Linked DNA regions of Homo sapiens. The protein of the gene in region 1 interacts with the protein of each later gene in a pairwise test. Each region holds a gene or a part of one and is shown in the gene's direction. Other genes may lie near its edges.

The links.
Region 2: the proteins of MNS1 (region 1) and TTC23 interact in binary tests that used the Homo sapiens proteins (3 or more experiments, as listed by UniProt).
Region 3: the proteins of MNS1 (region 1) and ZMYND12 interact in binary tests that used the Homo sapiens proteins (3 or more experiments, as listed by UniProt).

What each region holds. Positions count from the first base shown.
Region 1 is NC_000015.10:56,437,600-56,441,255, reverse strand, and holds part of MNS1 (meiosis-specific nuclear structural protein 1), read left to right. Parts: intron 1-3,656. UniProt on the Homo sapiens protein: Microtubule inner protein (MIP) part of the dynein-decorated doublet microtubules (DMTs) in cilia axoneme, which is required for motile cilia beating.
Region 2 is NC_000015.10:99,218,502-99,222,157, reverse strand, and holds part of TTC23 (tetratricopeptide repeat protein 23), read left to right. Parts: intron 1-293; coding exon 294-417; intron 418-3,109; coding exon 3,110-3,260; intron 3,261-3,444; coding exon 3,445-3,570; intron 3,571-3,656. UniProt on the Homo sapiens protein: Participates positively in the ciliary Hedgehog (Hh) signaling.
Region 3 is NC_000001.11:42,446,003-42,449,658, reverse strand, and holds part of ZMYND12 (zinc finger MYND domain-containing protein 12), read left to right. Parts: intron 1-1,020; coding exon 1,021-1,192; intron 1,193-3,656. UniProt on the Homo sapiens protein: Required for sperm flagellum function and male fertility.

The sequences.
Region 1 (3,656 bases):
CAGATATGTTTTCTGACTACAGTGGAATTAAATTAAAAATCAGTAATGAAAATATACCTGCAGACTCCTTAAATATATTATAATTAAACAATATATTTCTAAATAAGCAATGAGAAAAGGGGAATAAATAATATTGGAAATTAGAAAAATATTTCAAACTAAATGATTCAAAAAACAGCATTCCAAAATATGTGACGTGCAGTTAATGCAGTGCTTAGAGGAAAGTTTATATCTTTAAATGCATATATTAGAAAAAAGAATGGTTAAAAATTAATGAGCCTGTGTCTACCCAAACCCATACACAAATGTTTATGCAGCATTATTCACAATAGTCTAAAAGTAGAAATAACCCAAAAGTAGAAATAACCCAAATGTCTAATGGATAAACAAAATATAGTATATCCATGTAATAAAATGTTATTCAGCTATTAAAAGAATGACAGACTGATCATGCTAAAACATGGATAAACCTTTAATTATAAATTTAAAAGTATGTGCCTCAGGAATGTTATATAAATGATATCAAACAATATGTAACTTTTTCAAGTTGGCTTTTTTTTATTCAGCATAATTTCCTGGAAATTCATCCAAGTTGCTTGTATTGATCATTTGTTCCCTTTTTTTGCTGAGTAACATTCCATTGGCATGTATATACCATTTTATTTGACCATTTGCCCATTAAAGGGCATTTGGAATGCTTCCAATATTTAGCTCTGATGAGTAAATCTGATGTAAACATTCAGGTAAAGGTTTTTGTATAAACATCAATTTTCATTTCTCTGCAATAAATGCTCAAGATTGTATTAGCTGGGTTTTGTGGTAACTGCATGTTAGCTGTGTAACAGACTGCCAAAGTGATTTCCAGAACAGCTGTAGCATTTAACATTCCCATCAGAAATATATGAGTTACGCAGTCTGTCTGCATTCTCACCAGCATTTGGTGTTAACACAGTTTATTTTTTAATTTTTTTCTCCTCTGTCCTCAGAAGCTCAACAATTTTTTATTTTAGCCACTTTTAAATATCCATGTAGTGATACCTTGTAGTTTTATTTTGCATTTTCCTGATGACTAATGATGCTGAACATCTTTTCATGTGCTTATTTGCTGTCCTCTTTGGTGTAAGATCCTCTTTGATGAAATAGTTCTTCATGTCTTTTGCTGATTCTCTAATTGGGTTGTTTGTTCATTTATTGTTGGGTTTTGAGAGTTCTTCATATATTCTAGATACTAGTCCTTTGTCAGGTGGGTGGTTAGCAAATAGTTTCTTCTAGTCTGTAGCTTTATCTTCTCATCCTTTTAACATGATCTTAGAGCACGATTTTTCTTAGAGCAAATGTTCTCCATTTCTATGAAGTTCAGTTTATCAGTTTTTCTTTTTATGGATCATGCTTTCTGTGTCAACTCTAGAAACTCTTCGCCTAGTTATTGAAGAATTTCTCCTTTTTTTTTTCCTAAAGGTTTGTGTGTGTGTGTGTGTTTTGTTTTTTTGGGTTTTTTTTTTTTATGCTTTTCCATTTTACATTTCAATCTGTGATCTGTTTTGAGTTAATTTTTGGTACAAACGATGAGACTTAAATACAGTTTTTGCCATTGGATTTAGTTCAGTTGTTCCACACCATTTGTTGAAATGGCTGTTTCTCCAACATTGAATTGCTTTTGCACCTTTCTTAAAACACAGTTGGCATGTTTGTATGGGTCTATTCCTGTGGTCTCTATTTTGTTCTGTTGGTCTATGTATCCATCCCTCCACCAATACTACACAGTTTTGAATACTGCAGCTATATGGCAAGTCTTAAAATTTTTTTTTTAGCTATTCTAGTTCCTTTGCCTTTCCATATGAATTTTTGAAGAATCTTGTCTCTATAAATATTTTTTGCTGGGATTTTGATAGGTATTGAATTAAATTTGAATATCAGTTTGGGGAGAATTGATAAATTCACTATATTAAGTTCATGAACACAATTTGGCTCTCCCTTTATTTAGATCTTTGAATTTTTTCATCAGGATTCTCTAGTTTCAGCATACAAATCCTGTACGTGTTTTGTTACATCTAAGTGTTTCATTTTTTGAGCAATCGTAAATGGAATGTTAGCTTTTATTTTGGTGTCCGTGTACTCGTTGCTAGTGAATTGATATTTTTGTGTTTATCTTGTATCTCACAACCTTGCTGAATTCACTTGTTAGCTGTAGGATTTTTTTTCCCTACATAGTCAGGCATGTCTTCTGCCCAGAGCTACAGGCTGTTTCTTCCTTTCTGATCTGTATACTTTTTACTTCCTTTCCTTGCCTTACATGCTGGCTAAAATTTCCAGCACCACTGGCTAGTGCTATGTTGAAGAAGAGTGATGAGAGTAGACATCACCTTTCCTGTTCTTGTCTGTTGGCTGCATAAATGTCTTCTTTTGAGAAGTGTCTATTCATATCCTTCGCCCACTTTTTGATGGGGTTGTTTGATTTTTTCTTGTAAATTTGAGTTCTTTTTAGATTCTGGATATTACCCCTTGGTCAGATGGGTAGATTGCAAAAATTTTCTCCCATTCTGTAGGTTGGCTGTTCACTCTGATGGTAGTTTCTTTTGCTGTGCGGAAGCTCTTTAGTTTAATTAGATCCCATTTGTCAATTTTGGCTTTTGTTGCCATTGCTTTTGGTGTTTTAGACATGAAGTCCTTGCCCATGCCTATGTCCTGAATGGTATTGCCTAGGTTTTCTTCTAGGGTTTTTATGGTTTTAGGTCTAACATGTAAGTCTTTAATCCATCCTGAATTAATTTTTGTATAAGGTGTAAGGAAGGGATCCAGTTTCAGCTTTCTACCTATGGCTAGCCAGTTTTTCCAGCACCATTTATTAAACAGGGACTCCTTTCCCTATTGCTTGTTTTTGTCAGGTTTGTAACAAACCTGTCTTTTTTGTAACAAAAAAAAAGAGCAGATGGTTGTAGATGTGTGGTACTATTTCTGAGGGCTCTGTTCTGTTCCATTGGTCTATATCTCTGTTTTGGTAGCAGTACCATGCTGTTTTGGTTACTGTAGCCTTGTAGTATAGTTTGAATTCAGGTAGCATGATGCCTCCAGCTTTGTTCTTTTGGCTTAGGATTGTCTTGGCAATGTGGCCCCTTTTTTGGTTCCATATGAATTTTAAAGTAGTTTTTTCCAATTCTGTGAAGAAAGTCATTGGTAGCTTGATGTGGATGGCATTGAATCTGTAAATTACCTTGGGCAGTATGGCCATTTTCACGATATTGATTCTTCCTATCCATGAGCATGGAATGTTCTTCCATTTGTTTGTGTCGTCTTTTATTTCGTTGAGCAGTGGTTTGCAGTTCTCCTTGAAGAGGTCCTTCACATCCCTTGTAAGTTGGATTCCTAGGTATTTTATTCTCTTTGAAGCAATTGTGAATCGAGTTCACTCATGATTTGGCTCTCTGTCTGTCTGTTATTGGTGTATAAGAATGCTTGTGATTTTTGTACATTGATTTTGTATCCTGAGACTTTGCTGAAGTTGCTTATCAGCTTAAGGAGATTTGGGGCTGAGACAATGGGGTTTTCTAAATATACAATCATGTCATCTGCAAACAAGGACAATTTGACTTCCTCTTTTCCTAATTGAATACCCTTTCTTTCTTTCTCCTGCCTGACTGCCCTGGCCAGAACTTCCA
Region 2 (3,656 bases), about 43 Mb from region 1:
TGTCTGCTCTACTTTTTCTATTTTTTAAATTCTATTTCTTTTTTTCACCCTTAAATGTACTATAAATTGTACTTCTTATGTTTATTGTCTGTTTCATCTTACCAGATGTACATGCTACCACCCCAAATAGATCTTTGTCTGTTTTGTTCTCTGATACATCTCAAGTGCTTAGAACAATGTTTTGCACATAGTAGTCACTCAGTATTTATCAAAGGGATATAAAAGCGCATTGATTTTGTGTTTTGTGACTCTTAAGTTGTATAACTGGTAAGCCTGTTTTCTCTTCCTAACAGTACAAACAGGCCGTCCATGAGCTTGTGCGTTGCGTAGCACTGACAAGAATTTGCTATGGAGACTCACATTGGAAACTAGCAGAGGCACATGTTAATCTGGCTCAAGGCTACCTCCAGCTGAAAGGTAAGCTCGCCTTAGACTGAGGGGGATCAGTTGGTCGATTTCTGCTGTTCTCCCCAAAATTTGATTCACACTTAATTAGAAGGATCAGGTTTTTTAATATTCTCCTTTCTAAATACCAAGAAGCCATTTCTTTTTAGAAAGAGTTGATAAGGTATATAACCTGTAAACATTCAAAGGGGAAAAATGGAAAAAATATTTTAACTTTTCTGGTTTTTTTGTTTTTGTTTTTGTTTTTATGATTTCAAAAGTAAGGTTCTTAGGAGAAAATTAATCTGTTGGGCCAGAAGACTTTGTAGGAAAAAACCCAAGGTATGGAATAGGGGCCCAGAATGGGATCCATTCACACTTTTATTGGAGAATCTCTTGACTGTAAATAACCAAAAAATTTAAAAAGACTAACCCAAATTGGCATAAACAAAAGTTTTTGGCTCATACAACTTAAAAATTCAAGGGAAAAAATTTTTAGACTTAGCCATATCCAGTGTTCAAACAATGTGACCAGGATTCAATTTTTCTCTCTCCCACTGCTTGGCTCTGTTTTTCTTGGTATTTGCTCCATTCTTTGCCAGGTTTTGCCCACATGGTGGCAACAAGACTGCCTGCAACTTTAGACTTCCCTTATAAGCATTCCCAGGAGGAAAAGAATGTCCCTCCACCAAAATCCCGGGATTTGGGAAGGGTTCTAATTGGAACAACTTGGGTTGTATACCAAAGGCAAGGAATAGTCTGATTGGCTAAACCTTTCTTTTGGCTTCATTGGATCCTGAAGGAGAAGCAGGCCTTCGCCACATCTCATGGATTGGATGTGCAGGAGCCAGGCATCCCAAAAGGGAAACAGAGGGGAGAATGCGTGCAGGGGAGGCAAAAACAATAGACACCCAGGATATGATGATGGCTTCTACTTACTGACTGTGCAGCCTAAGACAAGATGGACAAGAGCATCTCTGTGCTCAGCTTCTTCAGCTGAAAAGTGATGATGATGGTAATGGTGATGCTAACTTTCCAGGGTTGGCCCAGTGAATAAAGAAAATAATAGAAGTGGAAAACACCAAATGCCAAGCATATTCTATACCAAGCGTATTCATTATTGCCACCCAATAAATTTGGCCAAATCTGATTATAGACTGGTCCTACCTATTAGATCAAAGGCTCTTAGGGACCTTGGAGATTATCTAATTTAAACTCTGCCCTCCCACCCCATTTTGTAGATTCAGGGAAAACAATGAGTCTGAGTTAGAACAGCTTTCCCCATACCACACTGTTAATAAGTAGCTGATCTGAGACTCAGACCTAGGTTTTCAATGCCAGTTTGTCCTGCCATCTGGGGTTTCAGACGATGCTTTTCTTATACAGCCTGCTGCCTCTCTGCGTGACAGTCCTTCTTTCTCAATTTAAAGTAAAAGTAGTATCTACCATTTATTAAAGTCTCATTTGGTGCCAGGCATGTTGTTTTCCATGCATAACCTTATTCAGTCCTCACCACAGTCCTCAAAGGTGGGTATTTTTAATATCCCTGTTTACAGCTGAGAAAGCTGAGGCCAACGTTTTATAATAAGTGGTGGAGCAGGGGATCCATCCTGGGCAGTCTGACTTCAGAGCCAATGTTCTTGAACTTCACCCTATGCTGCCTCCAGTAAATTGAGTTCAGGTTCCTTCAGGGACTCGACACAGTTGAAAATACAGTCCAACATGCTTTGTGTAACATCACAAGCACAGGTGGCACTAATACATGTCTGTGCTTTTTAAAAATATGTAATAAGACAATCTTGTGTAAGAATTCCCACATGAAACACATACCCTTGATTTTCTCCATTAGAAAATATATTCTTCCTGTTTTATAGACATAGGAACAGAATTAACTTCATATTTTGACAGATTTTTTTAGAGATCTAAGATACAATTTTGTGTAACTAAGAACATAAGATGGGGGCTGTGTGTATGTGAGTGGAAGTGGTTGTCGGTGTAGGGGAGGAGGATGGGAATACAGGGACGTGCAAAGCCCTGAAGCCGTGCTAGCGATCTCAGTCCTCCCTTCCCACAGATTAACAAGCCCGTGGAGGAACACTGGAACACACTGGGGAATTCTTTCTTAGTAGTGATTTTTTTTTGCTCCACTTTGTTTCATATTAGTCTCTTACCACATAGGAAGATGAAATTGTCACACATTAATCTGTTACCTCACTGGAATTGTGTTTGTAAGTTTTTGTAGATATCAGATATGTATTATGTTAAAAAAATAACTCTCTGACATTATGATTATAGGTGGGTGAGCTGAAGATTCAGAATTTTTAGTATTTCATTAAGATTGCAGTTACACAGCCAGGATTAAAATTCATGAATATTTTATTTCCTGCTCAGAATGCTATAGTTCTTGTATTCAGTTTGTTTCTTATAATTATATGTAACATATTTTGCTTCTGCTATTGGTGAGGTTTCAAAGCTGTTCAATTCCAGCTCATTTTGTTTATTTCTAAAAAGGCCATTTGGGGGAAAATTTATCTTGGGTACTTGGTATAAAACACTTCTTTGGTTGTTACAGTCATGGCAGTGTTTCATGCTGCCCAGATACGTCTCCATGTGTCATTTGACAATATGTGAAGGAGACCTTGTTAGATTCCCAGACCATAAGGAACTGTATTCCTGTCCAGTTGAGATGATAGAGAAACTGAGACCTCTTTTTCTTTGTCCACAGGACTGTCACTGCAAGCAAAACAACATGCAGAAAAAGCCAGACAAATCCTCGCCAACTCCATTGTGCCTCCCTATAGTGAGAATACAGATGTTTTCAAGTTTTCCATTGAGCTTTTCCATACCATGGGCAGAGCTTTACTCTCCCTTCAAAAGTATCCTTTTGCCTCTAACTTTTACAAATAGAAATACTATTCACGTAACACTTACACGCCAAGTAAAAAGCTGATGCTGATGGATGACTTAGGAAGTGTGATTGGAAGTATGGGAGCCAAGGAAGTTCAGGACATGGGGTGTAGAATCTAGAACCAAGTGGAAAATTTCCTGAACACAATTCAGATTTAAGGAAGCTGCAGAGAATTTGACAAAAGCAGAGAGACTTTCAAAGGAGCTGCTACAATGTGGAAGAATTATAAAGGAAGAATGGATAGAAATTGAAGCACGGATCAGATTATCATTTGCACAGTAAGTTTCAAGTTTAGGATTTTGCATACATGATGGCGGGAGGCTCTTTGCCTGTAGAATCTGTCTCAGGTAGGAGGAGCATCTCC
Region 3 (3,656 bases), on another chromosome or scaffold:
AGCTCTGGAGGCTGGGAAGTCCAAGATCAAGGGGTCAGCAGGTTTGGTTTCTTCTGAGGCCTCTCTTCCTGGCTTTCAGATGGCTGCCTTCCTACAGTGTCTTCACATGGTCCTTTGTGTGCAAGCATGCCTGGTATCTCTTTGTGTGTCCAATTTCCTCTTTTTATAAAGACACAAGTCAGATTAGGTTAGGGCCCACCCTAATGGCCTCATTCTAACTTAATCACCACTCTACAGGCCCTAGCTCCAATTATAGTCATGTGACAGACTGCAGGATAGGGCTTCAACACATGAATTTTGGCAGGGGACACAGTTCAGCCCATAACATCCACAGATGCCAAGAGTCTGGCCACATAATAGGAGGGTTAAGAATGATGTATGGATATACTACTGAATAAATAAAGGAGGTTACCAAAACCTGCCACTATTATTATGTATAGTGTTGAGTATTATTGAGTATTGAGCATCTCAATCACTCTAAAAAATTAGCCCCTTATTATAAGCCATAAATCTCTAAACATAAGATCCATCCATTTTAGTGTTATGACACTTTGATAGTGGCCTTAGAACAATGCAGAGTTAAAGTTTTTTGTGATATTAGCTAAACAGGATAATTCTGGAAGGGAAAATGAGATGTTTCTCTCAAAATTAACTCAACTAGGAAGGCAGAAAGTTTCAGATTGTCCTGAGACATGCTAGCTTTGCTAAAGTAAAGTTTTATTAGAACTGTAAAAACAATACTCATTTATTCATCTGATAACTCTATATTGAGCATTCATCTATGCCAAGCGCTGAACTAAGATGAAAATACACATGTTCCTGGGCCTTAAGGAACTCATAGTCCAGAGTTTGCTTTCTTATATCACTTATGTGGGGCTTCACGTCCACTCTAATACAGGCAGGCTCACTATGTGCCTTTAACTGGGTCATTAGGTGTTGGCCTTATCCCCAGGGCCATCTACATCCACCTTTGCCTTTAACTTTAGACTGTCTCAGATAGTCTGTTTCTCTCTTCCACAGAAGTATTTGATTGAATTCTGCTACACCATAGCCCAGAAATACCTCTTTGAAGGGAAACACGAAGATGCTGTACCAGCAGCTTTGCAGTCCCTTCGCTTCCGTGTGAAGCTGTATGGCCTGAGCTCCGTAGAGCTTGTGCCTGCTTACCTGCTGTTGGCCGAGGCCAGCCTTGGTGAGTGAAACCGACTTGAGATCCTTGGATCCCTTAAGTGGTGTTATGTTTGGGTCACACCAATGATCAAAGAGTCACCCTTGACAGTGGCACCAAGAGACCTATTGTAGAAGGAGCAGGGTTGCTGTAAAGTTTAGCACAAGGTAGGGAAGGAGATGTCACAGACTTTTGTCTACAACTGGCAGAAATCCACTCAAGCTGGCCTGCACAAAAAGGAGGAACTTTGTGCGGGTGCTGTAGTATCCTACAGGAGCTGAGGCTTCATGAGGGACTAGAATTGGAGTGCCTTTCGTTCTCTCTTGGGCCTTGTCTCCTGTATCTACTTCTCTCTGGGTATCTATCTGCTTTGCTATTTTCCCTCTCTGCAGACCAGATTTGTCTACCCTATGCTCACTGTAGAAGACAGCTACCCCAAAATGTCAGATGGAGTTTTTCAGTTTACGTGTTTTCTAGGTTTGAAGTAGGCAGTAGAAACTAATTAGCTTCTGATTTCCAAATACAAATTCGTAGAAGACAGAATTTTGTTGACATGGCTTGAGTGTGGAATCCACCTTTATTCCCTGGGATCAGAGCCACATAGTTCAGAAATACAGGAACCCACCCCTATAGATGGGAGAGGCAATTCTGAGAGTATAGAGCAGACTTAGCAGATACCCTACATGGTGGCCACCATTTAAAAAAATGCTTCATATGTTTTAATAGCCACCATTAAAAAAATACTTTTTTAAAAGTAAAACTTTTTTAAAAGTAAAACTGTTAAAATTAAGTACAATATAAAGAACTTTTATCCCCTGAGTTCTCTGAGAGTAAGTTGTTCACCTGATTCCCTATCCTTAGAATACTTCAGTGTCCCCTTAGTAAATGAGATATATTGTATTGTGGTTATGAAGGAGAATGTCTTTGTGGGAACCACACAAGGGGACCCTGTCATCTAAGAAGACCCCATTCAAGTTTCTCGAATTTTCCCAATAACATCTTTATAGCAAAAGGATACAGTTCAGGGTCACACTTTTCATTTTGTTGCCATGTGTTGGCAACAAAACTCTGGAATAGTTTCTCAACCTTTTCTTGACTTTTATGATCTTGACACTTTTACAGGTTACAGGCCAATTGTATAAAACATTTCTCAATTTGAGTTTGTCTGATATTTCCTAATGATGGGACTCACGTTATGGATTTTTGGCAAAAACAGTACAGAGGTGATGCTGTGTTCTCATCCCATCCTATAAACTGGCATGTTTTCATTTTTTTCATTACTGATGATGTTCATTTTAATTACTTTATTAGGATGGCGTCTGCCAGTCTTCCTCCCTGTAATGTTACTCTTTCACCCTTCTGTAATTAATAACTTTAATTTTCATTTCATGGATACGTCCTTTGAAACTATATAAATATCCCATTCCTCATCGAATTTTCAATGTATTCATTTAGTTATTTGTATCAGTATTTTATCTTTATTCAATGGGCTTAAATCCATTACTATCGTTAATTTGATCCTCAAACTGTCCCTGATTTGACCAGTGACAAACCCCACTCAAGCTGGCTTCTGCATCTCCCAGATACAACCCCATTTGTTCTTTGCTCACTTGACTGCTTTCTGGAACATACCTCTAAAGAGCCCTGATCTCTTTCAGTGGAAAGTGAAAATCAGAAGCCAAAAGCTGTGCACTAGATGTACTCATGCTTTTGGGGTATTACTGCTCCCAGGCCTTCTCAGTGGAGTTAGGGAGTAAGTGTAAATATAATAATGGGTGTACGTATACACACATTACATCTGTATTTATTTCTATATCTATATATCTTTTTTTTTTTTTTGAGACCGAGTCTCACTCTGTCACCCAGGCTAGAGTGCAGTGGCGCAATCTGAGCTCACTGCAGCCTCCACCTCCCTGGTTCAAGCAATTCTCCTGCCTCAGCCTCCCGAGTAGCTGGGACAACAGGTGTGTGCCACCACGCCTGGCTCATTTTTGTATTTGTAGTAGAGACGGGGTTTCACCATGTTTGTGATCTTGAACTCCTGTCCTCAAGTGATCCACCTGCTTCAGCTTCCCAAAGTGCTGGGATTACAGGTATGAGCCACCGTGTCTGGCCTGTATCTATATATCTACATCAATATCTCTATGACCACTAGTCTATACTGTTTGATCCAGATCTAATACAGCACCATAGGGTTCAATCTGATTTACTTCCATTCCTTAATTGCAACTCCCTTTGCTGACAGCTTTCACTTTCATTGGTTTATTTACATATTAATGAGTTCCCCTGTATGAATCAATCCCCGCTCTCTAACTCCGTCCTTTCCACCTTATAGATACCTCTTCCCGCTCCATGGGCCCTGACTCCCCATTCCAGGCTGCCTCTGCTGCATGGATCCCTCCTCACTTGTGTGGGTTCCAACTCCCCATAACAGGCTGTTTGCCTGCAGGAATGCCCTGCTCACCCTGCCCAGGTCTGACACCCCATT